Linked DNA regions of Homo sapiens: region 2 is linked to region 1. A link means that fine-mapping ties the variant in region 1 to the expression of a gene that starts in the linked region. Tissue or cell type: whole blood. Region 1 holds a variant in brackets; the other region holds the start of a gene. All regions are shown on one strand. Distances are from middle to middle.

Region 1 (8,107 bases):
TTCACCCCTCCTCACCTCCAGACCCTTCCACTGCATTATCGAGAACTCTGTCTCCTAGAGCCTCCCCTCCTCTGAAGGGGCCTTTACCTTCTTTCACTGAAGCCTGGCTGTCCTCAAGCTCCCTGCTCCTTGCAGCCACTCAGGTTGAGGCTGGTTTCTGTCGCCTACAGGCAGGTGTCAGGCAGGGCCTGGACGTAGAGGGGTTACTCATTTCTCCCTCTCAGTCCTCAGACTCTTTTTTTCTTCCCCCAGTGACTTCAGTCCCCAGCTCCTCTCTCCATCCACCTTTACTTTCACGGACGCTGACACCCACCTGGACCACTCTGACAACATCCTGGCTCCCCAACTTCATCAGACCCTTGCCTTCTTTGATTTCAGCCACCTCTGAGATCTGAAAATTTGCTTTTATTTAAAAAATGTCTTAAGTTTACATATGTAAAATTCTTTTTCTGATGTACAGGTCTATGGTTTCTTAGACACGCGTGGATTCTCACAGCCACCACCACAGACAGTACAAGCAACAGTTCCAATACTCCAGAGAACGCCCTCATCTCTCCTCACCCCTGCCTTCTGGCAAGCAATGAGCTGTTCTCTGTTCCTGTATTTTTGCCTTTTCTAGAATGCCATATAAATGGAATTATATAGAATGTGCCCTTTTGGTACTGGCCTCTTTTGTTCAAAAGAATAATACCTTTGAGATTCATCCATGCTGTTGTTTGAATCAAGCATGTTAACTTTTATTGCTGAGTAGTAGTCCATTGTGTAGATATATTACAGTTTTTTAAAAATCTACCCCTGTCGAAGGACATTTGGGTTGTTTTCAGTTCTTGGTGAGGATGAACATTTGTGTGCAGATTTTGTGTGGACTTAAAATCTTGACTTCTTTAAAATACCTAGAAGTGGTCATTGCTGGGTCCTATGTATGTGAGATCTCAACTGTAAGTTTCCTCTCCTCTGACAACTGTGCCCCATCCACATGGTTCCTTTCTCTAACATATCACACTGACCACTGTGACCTCACTAAGACCTCCAATTCACTGAGCCTGCCATTTTTTTCATTGATCATGAACCTATTCATTTTTTCTTTCCTTCTCACACAACTTAGTGATCCATCGTAATAGTCATCCTACTGGAAACTTTCCTCACTCCCTTAAACATACCGTCCTGGCTGAACCACAACCTGGTAAACTCAACTACCCACCCATTCAGTCTCCATTAGAGTAGAACAGTGTGGCTAGAAGAAAACACAATTGTGCCATGGGCCAGTTCATGACCATAAATCTCACCTGAGCTTCTGATACTGATCATCGATCAGTCTGACCTTCTAGTGACTATTTCATACTTGTATCTCTTCAAACCTCTGACAGCCTCATATATCACTGGGGAAATAGCGATCAGACTAGAGATTGCTTATTATCCTCCCACCACCAATTCCACCTGACGGACTAAGGCTTTACTCTCTTCTCTGCCTTCCCCCTTTTAAAACGATGAACTGTCCATGCTTCTGTCTGAAGCCAGCCCCTCGATGGTGCAGTGGATTCCATCCGTGCCCATCCCACCTTTTCAATCATTTTACTTCTGCAATTATCCCCCCCTTTCCTGTCTTCATCAACTTTCTGCCATCACCGTATATACGTTTCCTAATGTAGCTCATCTTCAAAAATGATGTCCCTCCTGGCTCCCCAAAACCAGTAACTTTACAGTGGAGAGACCTGACAAAACACCTCAGCCAGGTGATCAAGGCAACGAGTCATGACGGCGGAATGTACCCTTGCTGTGATGTGAGGAGGTGATAATGGCACTGTACCTCTTTGGTCTTCCTTTCCAAAACCCACAACCTCTGTCCAACCAGAAAAACACCAGACAAATCCAAATGGAAGGATGTTCTACAAAATACTTAACTAGCACTCCTCAGAATTGTCAAGGCCGTCAAAAGTGGGGAAAACCTAAGAGAAGCCTAAGGAGACGTGACAAGTAAATGTAATGTGGTATCCTGAATAGGACCTTAGAACAGAAAAAGAAAGATATTAAGTAACACTAAAAACTGGAATAAAGTACAGGCTTTAGATAATAAGGTACCAATACTGGTTCATTAATTGTGACTTATGTACCATAGTAATGTTAACAATAGAGGAGGCCAGGCACGGTGGCTCACGTCTATATTCCTACCGCTTTGGGAGGCCGAGGCAGGAGGATCACTTGAGCCCACGAGTTTGAGACCAGCCTGGGCAACATAGGGAAACCCCGTCTCTATTCTAAAAATAAAATAAAATAATAGAGGAAACTGAGTGCAGGGAACTCTTATAATGGTCTCACAGCCTTTCTGTAAACCTAAAACTATTCTAAGATAAAAGTCGATTAAATATGAAACCACACACACACACACATACACACACACACACATATACACTCCCACACACTCCCCTGACCCATGTCATCCTCTTGCTCCACTCCATTTCCCTGCTTTCCTGCACAGGGAACCTTCCCAAACGAGTTGTATATTGCTACGGTCTCTGTTTCCCCACTCCAGCCAGCTCATTCCTCAGTCTACTCCAATCTGCTGTCCTTAGCTCCCCACCAAACCTGCTCTTGTTAAGGTTGATGGTGAGCTCCATGTTGGCAAATCCGAGTCAATTTTTTTCCCCTTCCCTTACCTTTCAGTCTAGTGTGTGTGTAATGCAGTTCACTATGCCCTACTTCCCGCAGCACCCTTATCACTTGGCTTTTGAGATACTATACCCCTGGATTTCTTTCTGCTCCTTGGGTGCTCCTGCTCAGTCTGGCTTCTACCAGTGGCCTAGGTTCTGTCTCCCGACCTCTGTTCTTTGCACTTCTATCTCAGAGGCATATTTCATCCCAGCTCATGGAGTTAAGTACAATTTACCTACTGCACATACCCAAATTTGTATCTCCAGCTTTAAACCCTATGAGGTAGGGACTGCTGTCACCACCATTCTACAGAACAGCAGACTTAGGCTATCAGATGTTTAAGGGGCTTCCTTGAGGTTACACAGCAGGAAGCAGCAGGGCTGGGATTTGAACCTAGGTCCGTCTGACTCTAGGTCTGTGTTGTGAGTTGCCAGGCTGCCCGGCCGCCCCCTCCTTCCCAGCTCCCGTCCTGCCTGCCCCCCAGGGCCTCTTGCATGTATTGCTCATTCTGGCCTCAGGCCTTTGTCTCCCTGGTCCACTTCTCCTGGAATGACCTCTTTTCCCGCTGCCTGTCTAATCCTCTTCCATCCCAGCTCTGGTGGGAGATTCTTCACTCCTAAGACCCAGGCTGATCTCTGCTGGCCTCCTCTGGACATTTGCAGGAGTTGAAGTCCACCCTAAAACAACCAAGGGCTCATTTGCATCAATAGTTATCATGCTTTCTGAACCCGCGATGGGACCCTTGGCCCAAGTACAGCTGCACCCGCGGGGACGCGGAAGCACGTGATCTAATGCTTGGACTGGCTGGGAAAACTGGGCCATGGGCCTCCATCATCCCACACCATCTCAGACAGGGTCTCAGTCATCCAGGCGGGCTTTGTTTGGTTCCCCTACTAGCTGGGAAGCTTCTAGAAGGAAGGATCATGATTGCCGAAGAAGTATCATTTTTAAACACTGTGTATTAGGTGGGGCTGGGGAAGTACTTCAAAATCCTTTTCTCCTGGGTCCTGGGGGACCAAGAAAAGTTCAGTCTAGTAGTGAAAGAATTGATTTAGACTTCATTTGAGGTCACAGAGAGGCCAAGCAGTTCCCACAGGGGTCGCTGAGCTCAGAGGAATGTTTGGAAGAAATGGGGGTGACAGGATCATTTTTGGAAGAACTGAGAGTGCCGGAGGGAAGTGAGGAGCAGGAGGCTGGAAGGAAGATTTGGGAAGGGCCATGTGGGAGGCCCAGTGCTGGCTGAGACAGTGAGCGGTGACCTCTGGGGCAGAGAACACAGCCCTTTCACTTACGTGAGTTCAGCCCCAGTTCCCATGATGCTGGCCTGGGCTCTGGCCCCCACCCTGCCACTAACTCCCTGTGTGACTGTAGGCAAGTCGCTTTGTTTTCCTGGGCATCAGTTTCCTCATCTCTAAAATGAGGAGGTTGAAAAAAAGAAGTGATGGGGTTGGGC[G/A]ACATTGTTTCTCAGCCCCTCTCAGCATCTGAGATAACATCCTGTGCTGTCTTACCCAGGGCCACTACCTCAGGGAAGGAAGAGCCGGGTTAACCTGACTGTTCTTCTGCAGGCCTCCTGGTAAAAGTTTCTTTTTCACAAAAAAGCAGTCTCTTTTGTGCGGGATCCAGGAGAGGAAGGATGTTAAGTGGTTGAATCTTGCATGTTGTAAAAGAAATGAATCTGCATTTCCGTGATCTCCAGAAAAAAAACAGTTCATTCACTCTCCACCCCCATCTGAACATGGGCATCAAAGCCCATGCTGCGGAATGGGATCAGTTTTGCCCTGCATGATCAGAAGGGGCAGGGTTGGCCCTTCTCTACTAGGTAGGGCCTTCTGAGGTTCCAGCCTTGGGTCAGAGTCCCTCTCCCAGAGAGATTCCTCATCCATAAGCCAGCCAACCAAGACAAGTGCTGAGATGTTGTCACAGCCCACCAGGGTTTGCTTGCCTAGAGGGGAATATATCTAGCATCAGGAGGACCCCCAATGGCTGAACGATTGCTGATTCTGCTCGGGCCCCTACCTTGGTCCTTGCACATCTGGTCACACAGGCATGTACCTACTCCTGAGTCACCTACATTTTGAAAATACAAAATCGGGAGCATTTAAGTCAGTCTTCACTGGATTGCTTGAGGCAAAACATGAAGCAGTGATGGCTTGTGTGGGTCTTGTGTCTTGTGCTTGGAGGCTGAGCTCCTCTGACCCATCAGGAACAATGGCTTCGTTGTGTTCCTGGCTTGCTCTGGCTTGCTCGCTGGACTTGGAAGCAAGAGGAGCTTTGAGCTGCCCAGCACCCCCAGGAGCAGGAGGGTATAATCATGGCCCAAGGACAGCACTGTGGACCCCATGGGACCCTGCAGTTGTTAGGGGGCTGGGATGGATAGCACCTTTCCAGGCCTGGATCCTGAATTAGCCAGTGCTTAGAGGCAACTCTGCTCCTGAAGGATGGGCTGAGATGTGTCAGTCACAGAAAAGCTTCAGAAAAGAACAGGTGATGTTTTCAGGAAGTCCAAGATGGCAGGCAAAGGTGGGTAGGAACCTGGCAGAGCCCAGAAACTCCAATCTGAAGGTCCAGGCCCCAAGATTTGGAAGAGAAGAGTAAGCAAAAGAACCAGAAGGAGGTCTAAAGGCTAAAGTAATAAAGACATGAATTTTCTATTTAGAAATGAGAACAGGGTCCTGTCATAAAATCAGCCTCCCAGCCATCAGTCTAAGGTGTAAGAGGAGAGACGCACTGGCCAGGAAGGGGTTTCAGTTTCATTTCTCCCATCAACAAGCTGTGACTTGCTTAAGTCATAAGATCCTCAGTTTCAGCTGTAGAATGGGTGCCCATGGCATTGCTTAGACCTAGGATCCAGTGAGCTAACAAGCTAACAAACATGTGAGACCATACTATATGGACCAAATGCTTAGGCAAAGTACATGCTGCTGGAATGGCTGGTTCTAGGGTAGACAGTGAGAGCGCAGGCTGCTGCACGGTCTCTCCCCTTGCCCCCATCTCTCCATGGAGACAAAGGTCTGCTCACAAGCAGGTCATGATCTGGAAAAGTGAAATTTGAATTGGGGAACATATCATGCTCATGTCCAGTTCTGGGCTTTCACTGTGCTCTGTCTCTGGCCGAGGGGATCTCTGCTCTTCCCAATCACAGTCTACCTGGGAAGACCCTACTCCAGCCCAGCCGCCTCCAAATTGAAGTCCTAATGCCCAGGCTGCCCCTTTCCCTTCGGGACCTCCATCCCAAAGTGCACTATGTGAATATACAGAACAGTGTGGCTCTCAAACGACTTCATGTAATTTTCTGAAAGCAGAGACCATGACTTCTTTCCTTGGGTTCCCCATAGGATACAAAAAATGGCCCCGAGGCACATAGATAGATAGATAGAAAAATACTTGCAGAAATATGGAAGATACAATATGAATTTTCAGACTTAGGCAACTACCAAGTATTTAACACAGTCTTTCCTTCACCAGTCTTATCAGCTCACTTCAGTAGTCTCATAAAGGTCTGTGCTAATGTTCAATTTATATGAACGACTTAATACTTCACTTTACATTGGCATAGCCCATGATAAATCCACAGGAAATAAGAGCCACCAGCAGTGGTAGGATCAGAATACTTTAATAAGATACCAGTGTCAAAATACATTTCCTTATAAAGTTAAGCTCCCATACAGTTATAATGTTGTCAGTAGGAATTCGACAATATAATAACGTTCATGAAATCGTTACGTTGACAGGTAGGGTTAATATGAAGCTTGGAATATTTTTCAGTGTTTTAGTAAAACTGCAAGGGTAAAATGCCCTTAATGCCAGGGCAACACACACAGGAAATCAAATACCAGCATTTACACGTCAGTAACCCTTCAAGTTCTGCCACCCTGTGTGGGGTAATGCCGTGCAGCTAAAATATGATTTACGCAACACCATGACTAAGGAATTTCTCATAGAACTTAAATTTCTTTTGAAAGCTATTTTTTGTTTTTGGCAATAAGTCTATCCGGGCTTACTAAATAGTTGGCCCAATGTGCTTTGTGTGTGTTTTTAGAAACTTCTTCATTGTACCCATTACAGAAAAGTTCCATGTAATTGGTATTGAAAAACCAGAGGTGTCGTCCCTCTTACCCAGGGAGTTGCAAAGTGCTCTGGGAACACTATTTTCAGTGCTTCCTACCTACATGTCACTGACCGACCCAGAGACCTCAGCCAGGGCCTGTGGCTAGGGGCCATCCCTGGAGGCCTTGCGGGGCCATCTGGCTGCCGGCTGAGTGGGGGCTGCAGGGCTGGTCTGGACCAGCTGCTCTCCCGCTGTGCAGCCTCCTCCTCAGTCCAGCTCCACGGGGCTCCAAGGTCGTGAGCTTGGAGGACGTGGACGGGGTCACTATACCATTTTTGACCCCTCATTTGCATGAATTCCCGTCTAAACCATCTCATGGTAGTTCTGGAAATGTCCAAATGTGCCGTGTGAAAGACCATCCGAGTCACATAGCTCAGTGCACTTGAAGGGCTAGCAACAAAACCTTAAGAAAAGTTAGAGCACTTCCCCGCCCCACCCCCCGACCCCACAACGTGCCATCAGACCCTCTTGGCAGCAATAATAATAATACATACATACATAGTACATAGAGAATGTGAGGGGATAGCGCGCAGTGCTCCCGCTGAATGACTCCACTGCTCGGATTGTCACACCTATGGCATATCACAGATGGCAAAAAGCCGACAGAGGGAGGCCTTCCACAGTGTCCGTACAGGCCGTGGGAGCACTGGACAAGTCTGCAGTGTCCACAACACTAAGAAAAATTAACAGCTTCGAAAAGATCTTAAAGTGATTTTGTGAGCAGGATTCCATTTCCGTTTCTAAGTTTTTAGATATTACAAAGTACCCATATATATGATAAACACTTAACCCAGATATAAATTTTCTCCTCTTTTAAAAAACTCAGTTATGTTTTTGAATAATAATAAAAAATCCACCAAATGCGGGGGAAAAACACCAGTTTAGGAAAAGCCACGCTGTGCAACTTTCACAGATAACCACATACGTTGGAGTTGACCCTTCACATTTCTTTTTTTCCAAAATTAGAGCAAAGAGTCAGCTTAAACAAAAAAAAAAAAACCCTGAAATTTACAATATGGTGATTAGTTTAAAAAAGAAACGAGAAGGGCTCTGCGAGGGAGACGCCACAAACCAAGCTTGGAAAGCAAAATCATTTTTGTTTCTCTTTGGCAACAACAATAACGAGGAATCTTTTTAGTAAAATGAAGCTAAAGCTTCTCCCTACAGAAGAACAGACATGCACCAAACTTGTTAGTATGGACAGTTGTGTGTGAGAAGGAGAAGGAGGGAGAGAAACCTATGGATAATATAAATTAGAAGTCATTGAAGGTGGGGAGGAAAAAAATCCTACAAAATTTAAGAACATTTCAGAACAGGTAAAACAATTGTGTACTTTAAAAATAGGGATAA
Region 2 (8,107 bases), 91 kb after region 1:
AATCCTGGAGCACTGAGAATTATCTAATTGTTTCCTTCCATTTCTAAACACTTTACTTAATAAATTCCTAGAAAGTTGAGAATCACCACTGCCCCCCCCCCCGACGCACGGGCACACACACACACACACACACACACACACACAGAGAGAAAGAGGGACATTCTAAGTAAATTAAACTGTTTAGTCTCACAGTTTTCACTCCTAGTGAAAATGCCAACTAACCCAGTACAAAAATCAATCTAGCAGCTGCTTGAATGTTCTCTACCTCAAAAAGCAATCTGCTCCACTGAGGAGCGGTCCTTGCATTGGTTTTGTTTAATGAGGTCTACCTATATAAGTAGATTTTTTTCTAACTAAAACAATGAATTCATACTTCTCAAAGTTTACAGACACTGGGAACAGCATCAATTCAACTCTGCTTCCTTTTTTTTTTTTTTTCAAAAAGCAAACAGAATCATCACTTCTACTGCAGCCTAAAGGTGTTGATAATTATCCAGAAAAGCAAATCTCCTTTCTATAAGGTTCAGCGGTTTGAGAGTTGTGATGGGGAAGGCACTCCTTCGGAAATCATCCTCACTATCTAGAGATATTTCAGGGCTGGGGTACTCTCCTGTGAACAATAGGAAAATACATACTTAATTGAAAGTAATAAACCAGGGTTCTGACTTTTTTTTTTTTTTTTTTCTTTGAGACGGAATTTCACTCTTGCCCAGGCTGGAGTGCAGCAGCGCTATCTCCGCTCACTGCAGCCTCTACCTCCCGGGTTCAAGCAATTCTCCTGCCTCAGCCTCCAGAATAGCTGGGATTACAGGCACCCACCACCACGCCCGGCTAATTTTTTTGTGTTTTTAATAGAGACGGGGTTTCACCATGTTGACCAGGCTGGTCTTGAACTCCTGACCTCAGGTGATCCGCAGCCTCAGCCTCCCAAAGTGCTGGGATTACAGGCATGAGCCACCGCGACCAGCCCTGACTCTTATCAGCACTAATTTTCCTTGTGACCGGAGAAGTCTTTTAACCTCTCTCGGCATCAGTTTCCTTATCCAGAAAGAGAAAAGTCTGACTAGATGATTTCCATGGTCTCTTATAAAATAATTCTAGGCTCCCTATAAGCACCACTGAAAAAAACTTGAAATGATGGCATTCTTTTGAACTTCATGAAAACTGTATGAATTAAAACTTAAATACTCAAGCCAACAATGTGTTACATCAATTCTGTATCATCCTGCGCTGCTGGTAATACAATGGAAACATATCAAGTGTGGAGGGAATATTTATTTAAAATATATGTTTAAATTGAGAGAAACTGTCCAGCAATATTTTTTCCCTTCAGAGTTGGAATAATGATGGAGTTTGATTTGATTTTAGAAGAGGAACAACTAAGTCCAGCTGTCAGAAGGAGGGGGAGATTGGAGATCCAGGTGTCTCCAATTCCCCTTCCACGCTAGCCCTGTACTGAGCACTACTGTATAAGCACTCTGGGAAGGTGTCTGGACCTAGGTCTGGCTTTGGGACTGGACTTTGATCCCTGATTATCCAAGGATCTCATTTACATTTGCCTGAACCACTCCTCAAACCCCGTGAATCCCAGAATTTCCACATTTTTTTCCCAGTGAAAGGACTCAGGCATTCCTGATAGATGCGTGCACAAAAAGGTGAGTGAAAGTGCAGTACCCCCACCCACCAGGCTTCAGTTTCTGACATCTGTGATGTCACCGCAAATGCCCACTACCACCAAAACTGGTACTATCAAGGACACCCAGCCAACTAACATTTAGAAAGCAAACTCTTTATTATTAAACATTAACATATTTATCGACGTGTGAACATTCTGGGACAAAATCATCTGCCCACTTCTTGACGGGCCATTGTTAGAACGAATATTCCAAATGTTCTGCCCATATTGCATTTGGGGGAAGAAACTGCTCTGCTAAACCAAAGAAACACAAAATGTAAGAACTAGTGGGCAGAATCATCAGCAGAGAGCCCCCTCACTGTCACATCGCCCTTGTGAGGCACTCAGAAAAGCTACAGCAGTCACTTACATGACAACACCAACTTTCAATGTATTGGTTCACATATTTTAATTACATCTTGGTCCCTAAAGAAGCCTGCAGCCAGCAAACAGACCCAGGCACGAAAAGTAAATGAGTCTCAAACTGATTAGCCCAATAGGAATTGGACAACCCCTTAAGGGGCTCTAGATGGTGAAGGACACGCTGTTTGCCCTGCCATTCTGCAGCACAAAAATCCAGGCAGGTCGAAGAGGGCGGACACCCTCGCGTGGCCACCAGCCCGGAGCCGCAGCTCACACAGCGGCCTCCAAGGCGTTTCGCAGGCAGTCCCCACAGTGGTTCTTAAAGCGGCCGCTCTCGCCAATAATTGGGAGTCTAATTACGCAACGTTCTTCCCGCTCCCATTCCCGCTTCTTCTCTCTTTCCAACAGTCCGCTAACGAACCAGGTACTGTAGCTGGGTGTGTCGAAATCATTTTTCCCCTGCTCCCAAGTTTCTCGGTATATACGGTACAAAACTGCACAAAACCCGGCGCTAAGGAGCGCAGGAGGAGCTGACACTTCACACATTTGTCAAGATTACTGTCAGGCCCCACCTCGGCGATTGCCACATTCCCGATAGGCATCGCAGTTGTAAAATACACAAGTTCCCTCCCCGGCTCCGGACCCGAAAGCGTCTGCAGGCGCTGTCTATAACTTTGCTTTTCGATGGTTCAGTCATTATTAGCATTATGATTGGTTTTTACAAAACGCACTGGAATCTTAAGAGTCTTTTCCTTGCTCTGCTGCCTTCAAAAGACATGGAACCCCAGGACTGCTCCGAGGGCCCTGGGAATGTGCCGGCTGCAGTCTCAGGGCTCCCTCACTTGTCTTGGGTCTGAGGGCGCGACGGTGACGAGAAAGGGGGGACTACGGCCAGGAAAGGGGAGCAGGGCCCAATCCCCTCCCCTAGCGATCCCGCAGTGAAGGGCCCGGGCGCCGAGCCAGGACAGGCGCGATTCGCTCCCGTTTATCAAATCCTTATCGGTGCCCCGAGGTGGGAACCGCTGCTTTCGACCGGAGGATACACGGTTTCTGGCTCCAGTCCCGTAGTGGAAGTTGGAACAAGAGCAAATCAACCTCGGCAGTGAGCCCTCCCGGCCAGTCACCTCCCTCCCTTAGCGAGTCGGTCCTCCTCATCCTCGCACCTCTATACCGCCGCTCCGCCGCTGGTTTCCCGCGGCTCAGGCGGTTCAGCCGGCCGCGCGTTGGATTCCAGCTTCCCGCAGCATAGCCTCGCCAAGCCGCGGCCAAGCGCGGGGCTGGAAGCTCCAGGCCACTGGGGCCGCACGGGTGGAGACAGGAGGAGAAAGGGGACAGGCGGCGAGCCGCACACATTTGCAGAAGTTGAGGCCCTGCCTGCTTCTGCGCGGCCGCGCAGAGGGCTCGAACCCTCGCTCGGGTAGCGCCGGGCCCGGCTGGACTGGGAGCGGCCGGGAGAGGGCGAGAGGGCAGCAAGAAATGGCCAGAGTTGCCTCTCACCCAGTGCCGAGAGGCTCGCGAGGGCAGGCGGGCAGATCGTGGCTGCCCTTCTCTGTCCTCTTCGGAGACAGACACCCGGACCTGCCAGGGACATCCAGTGTTGCCGTCCGCTTCCTACACACCGAACCATCTGCCCCCGCAGGGCAATCCAGGTCACTCACTACCTACTCTCCCCAGAGTCAAGGTGCGGCACGAGGAAGTGGGTTCTCCAACCTTCGGTGGGGTCTGGAGCCCGGCAGCGGGGCGCTCTGAAGGGTCCTGGCTCCTCGGTAGGATCGTGTCCCTGAGCCGCTCTCCGCCTCCCGCCCCCCTTTGCCCACTTGGGCCGCGGCGCGGGCACAGGAGCGCATTTGGAAGGACTCCGCGAATCCAGAGAAAAATAGAGACGTGGATGCTGCCCCAAAATGAGAGACCAGAGAAAGTCGAGGACATGCACCCACAAACATTTCCAAGCGCCGGTGGCCACGGTAATCTGCTGCGGGGCGGCTGGGAGATTTTCAAAGGCACCGCGGAAGCACCTCCGACCTCCAGGCCATCTCCCTCGGCCTCCTGGCCTCGCCGTGCGCGCAAATCCCCGACTCCTCCGAGCCGCAGAAGTCTCCACTGCAAAGCTGCTGATCCGCGCCCCCAAACCGGGCACATGCTCTCCCCCTCACAGCCCTCCAAACCGAGCCTCGAGCTCCGAAGACCTCTCAGCACTCTTCTCCCAACCACTCTCGGTCGCGCCTGCCCCGCGCAGCCCGGCCCTGGCCTCGGACCGGCCCCCTGATCGGCCCGGACGCCCGCTTACCTTTTCTTCTCCTTGTCAGCTGTCATTGTCGCTGTGGCCCTTTGAGACGTTCAGACGCCGAGCACCTGGGCTCCCTGGCGGGTGGGGGGCTGTGGCCCTCGTCCGCTCCCCGCGGCCCGGGCGGGTGGTGAAGGTCCGAGGTGCGCGCAGGTCCCGAGCGCCCCGCGCAGTCAGGTGGAAGGTGGCGCGCGGCGGGCTAGGTGCGGGGGCGGGGGTGGAGAAAGGTGACTGGGAGGAACCTGCGCGCGGAGGCGGGGTCCGGGGAAGGAGTGGGTGGAGGCTGTCAGACCCGAAAAGAGGACGGAGAGAAGGGAACCCAAGTTCCTTTTTCCCTGGAAAAGGAGTCACTTTTCTGAGTTTTCAAAGAAAAAAAAAAGTGGCTCGAATGCTGGGAGTCGGAAGGAGTCGGAGGCCGGGCTGAGCTGACCATACAGTCTCAGGACACTGCCGAGGATTGTACGGCCGCCTCAGGAGCGCTGGGGCGGAAGCGCAGCGGGCACCGGACCCGTGTGGCGGTCCGCTCGCGAGTGTAAAGCTCCCGCGGCCGGCAGCCCACTTTAAAAACTCCGTCGGCCGGCTTGGGGCGGGCACGGGGCGGGCGCGGAGGGCGGGGGGCGGGCACCGGCGCGGGTGTGTGGGCGGGCACGCGCCGGCAGGCCCCGCCCGCGCCGAGCTCCGGGCGGCTCACTGCGTCCCGGCCAATGGGGACGCGCGGCCGCAGCCTCTGCCCTGACCCTGGCCCGCCTCCTGCCCCCGCGCTGCGCCCCGCCTCCTGCCTCCGCACTTCGAGGACTTGTTTATGAGGTCGTCTGGGCGGCGGGTAGCGGGGTGGGACTCCGCGTCGGGGAGAGGCAGCCTGCGCAGGGCCGAGGGGCGGCCGGGAGCCGGGCTCCGGGATTGCTGCGGGGGACGGCAGTTGCGCCACAGCGTCGGTGTCCTCGTACCGGCGCCGTGCCCTTGGAACGAGGGCAGGACCGCGGGCAGCGCCGGGCCAGCGCGGAGCCCCTCCACGCTGCTGCGCTCCTGCGTCCCTGGCCCTCGGGCCAGGTGGGGATAATTTCTCGGCCCCCAGCGGCTGCGTTTCGGGCGTGGGCGATGCGCCCTTTTCGGTGGGACGCAGCTGACTTGACCGTCTGGGAGAAGCAGTGCAAGGAAATTGATCTAGGGCTGCGCCTACTCTTCCTTCCCTCTCCCAGCAGGGTGGTTGCTTACCGGCTTGTGCCAGGCGGTTTGGTTTTGGCGGGGATGCGGCAGAGGAGGCCCTTTGAGCCGCCCGAGGCCGGGGCGAGTTCAGAATTGGAGAAGTCAGTCTGGTTCCCCAGTGTGATCTTGGAGTGACAAGAGTTGGCCATGTGCCCTCAAGTCACTGCATCTCAGGCCTGCCCTCTCTGCCGCCAGGGTCGATGGAAGTCCTGGGAAACCCAAAGGCTACAGGTGTTGGAAATTTGTAGATTTAAGGGCTCACACAGGCAACGGTTAGCGCTCAGGGATTTTCCAGCGGCGCTTTTGACGCTGCCTTCCATCTCCGGGCCCAGTGCTCCCCTGCCCCGCGCTGAGCTGTCTCCCACTCGCTACCGGCGATGGGGAAGGGACATCTGGGGAGAGGACAGGGGACGCCCTTAGTTTTTGAAGGCTGTGGAAGGACCCATGAGTTTCACAGGTGTAACTTGAAGTTGGAAAGCGAGGGCCAAAGAACTGGTCTATATCTCTCCCTTTAGCCTCTTGCCACATTTTATACTAGAACGATCTACAGAAGCGATTTGAAGAGAAGGGTAGGTTTCAGCGCCATAATAAAAATGAACACGTGTTTTCCCCGTGTACACAGAAAGGGTTGGGGGAGATACTTTTCAGGAGCCTGGAGAAGGCGAAGTGGGGAGAGGGCAAAAACTGACGAAGAATTGGGAAATACTTTTTTTTTTTTTTTGAGACTGAGTCCCACTCTGTCGCCCAGGCTGGAGTGCTGTGGCCCCATCTCGACTCACTGCAACCTCCGCTTCCCGCGATTCTTGTGGCTCAGCCTCCGGAGTAACTGGAATTAAAGGCGCCCACCACCACCCTCAGCTAATTTTTGTATTTTTAGTAGAGACGGGAGTTTTACCATGTTGGCCAGGCTGGTCTCAAACTCCTGACCTCAAGTGATCTGCCCAACTTGGCCTCTCAAAGTATTGGGATTACAGGCGTGAGTCACTGTGCCCGGCCGGGAAGTAGACGTATTTTGTCATTTTCTCAGATCTCGGGGCACGGAGCACCTATACAGGTTGATAGTCAACGAATTCAAAGATTGCAAATCTCTCTCTAGCGAACTATTTCATGGGGCTGGTGGGTTTCAGGAACGGGGTGATTTGGTACTGGGCTTCTCCAGCCAGCCATTTCTAGTGGACACATTTATGTATTTTAATGAGTTCAAATTGGTAGATAGTTCTCCCTTAACCATAGGCTTATTTCCCTCACTTGGGACTAGAGTGCGGGAAAAGGGCACCTTGGTGGCTTCCAGGTGCCTACAGTAGTTCACCACAACAGCCTCTGAGTCCTGGACTGTGCTTGACAGATCGAGGCAACACCTCCAACCCATAGAGAACATAGCCTTTTAGATCTTGTTTTTAAAGAGGAAAGGCAAGGAGGGGTCACTCAAGACCACATCAACCTAAGAAGACATGGACACATGGGAGGAACAGCACAGACTGGGGCGTGTCAGAGGGTGAGGGGTGGGAGGAGGGAGAGCATCAGGAACAATAGCTAACGGATGCTGGGCTTAATACCTAGGTGATGGGATGATCTGTGCAGTGGACCACCATGGTACACATTTACCTATGTAACAAACCTGCACATCCTGCACATGTACCCCTGAGCTTAAATGTTAGAAATTCCATCAACCATGTTATATAGCTCCTTCCTCTTGGCCAGACTGCACCCTATAAGTGAAGGATCCCCAGGCTAACACAAACAGCTGGCATTGAGTCTGGGATTTTTTTTTTTTCTTTAGACAATCTCACTCTGTTGCGCAGGTTGGAGCGGAGTGGCACGATCTTGGCGCACTGCAACCTCCACGTCCCGGGTTCAAGCTATTCCCCTGCCTCAGCCTCCCAAGTAGCTAGGACTACAGATGTGCACCACCATGCCCGGCTAATTTTTGTATTTTTAGTAGAGATGGAGTTTTGCCATGTTGGCCAGGCTGGTCTGGAACTCCTGGCCTCATGTGATCCACCCACCTGGGCTTCCCAGAGTGCTGGGATTATACGCATAAGCCACCGCACCTTGCCAAGTCCGGGATTTTGGCAGTGTCTGAGATACACCAAAAACTCATTATAATAACTCTCAAAAGGGTTGCACCCAGCCTTGCTTAGAGCAGAGCCGGGTGGCCTGAGATTTCTTCCAGGACTCAGCTCAATAACCTTTGCAGGAAGGAGCTGAGAGTGTAAACCAGATGCAGGCTGTGGCTAGGGTGCATCCAATTTTACTTTTTAGAGCCTGTGGAGAACTAGAGGAGAAAAACTTTGAAAGGTGATGCTGGGGCAGTGAGTGGGGGATGGGGAGCTGGGTCCCCGGATTCAGAGGGGTGTCTTTAGAGACACTGATGTTGTGGCCACAGAGGGCAGCAGAGGACACCGGTAGGCAAAGCTCCCAAGCTGCTTAAAATAGGAGCAAACTGCCCACCTCCCAGCAAATCTCCCTACCTGCCCCCCAACCCTGTATTGGATGGTTTGGGAACAAAAGCTGTGGCACCAGTGAAACACCTATTTGTTTTGACAAGGGACAAATCTGATTCTCTTGCTTCCTCTTTT

Evidence for each region. PIP is the estimated chance that this variant, and not a neighbour inherited with it, causes the effect.
Region 2: it holds the start of EPAS1, and the variant in region 1 is fine-mapped to the expression of EPAS1 in whole blood (TOPMed, PIP above 0.99).

What each region holds. Positions count from the first base shown.
Region 1 is chr2:46,384,837-46,392,943 of GRCh38, reverse strand. It overlaps EPAS1 (endothelial PAS domain protein 1), which reads right to left. Exons shown (of 16, transcript NM_001430.5): 16 at 6,247-8,107. It overlaps LINC01820 (long intergenic non-protein coding RNA 1820), which reads left to right. Exons shown (of 3, transcript NR_146999.1): 3 at 461-651. Among named protein-coding and RNA genes, the nearest start is that of LINC01820, 5.3 kb to the left of the region's middle. RefSeq lists an enhancer at 7,997-8,107. The variant G/A (reference allele first, on the strand shown) is at 4,103.
Region 2 is chr2:46,294,156-46,302,262 of GRCh38, reverse strand. EPAS1 (endothelial PAS domain protein 1) reads right to left here and starts at 4,856. Exons shown (of 16, transcript NM_001430.5): 1 at 4,326-4,856. The coding sequence starts at 4,351. RefSeq lists silencers at 4,263-4,592, 4,823-5,402.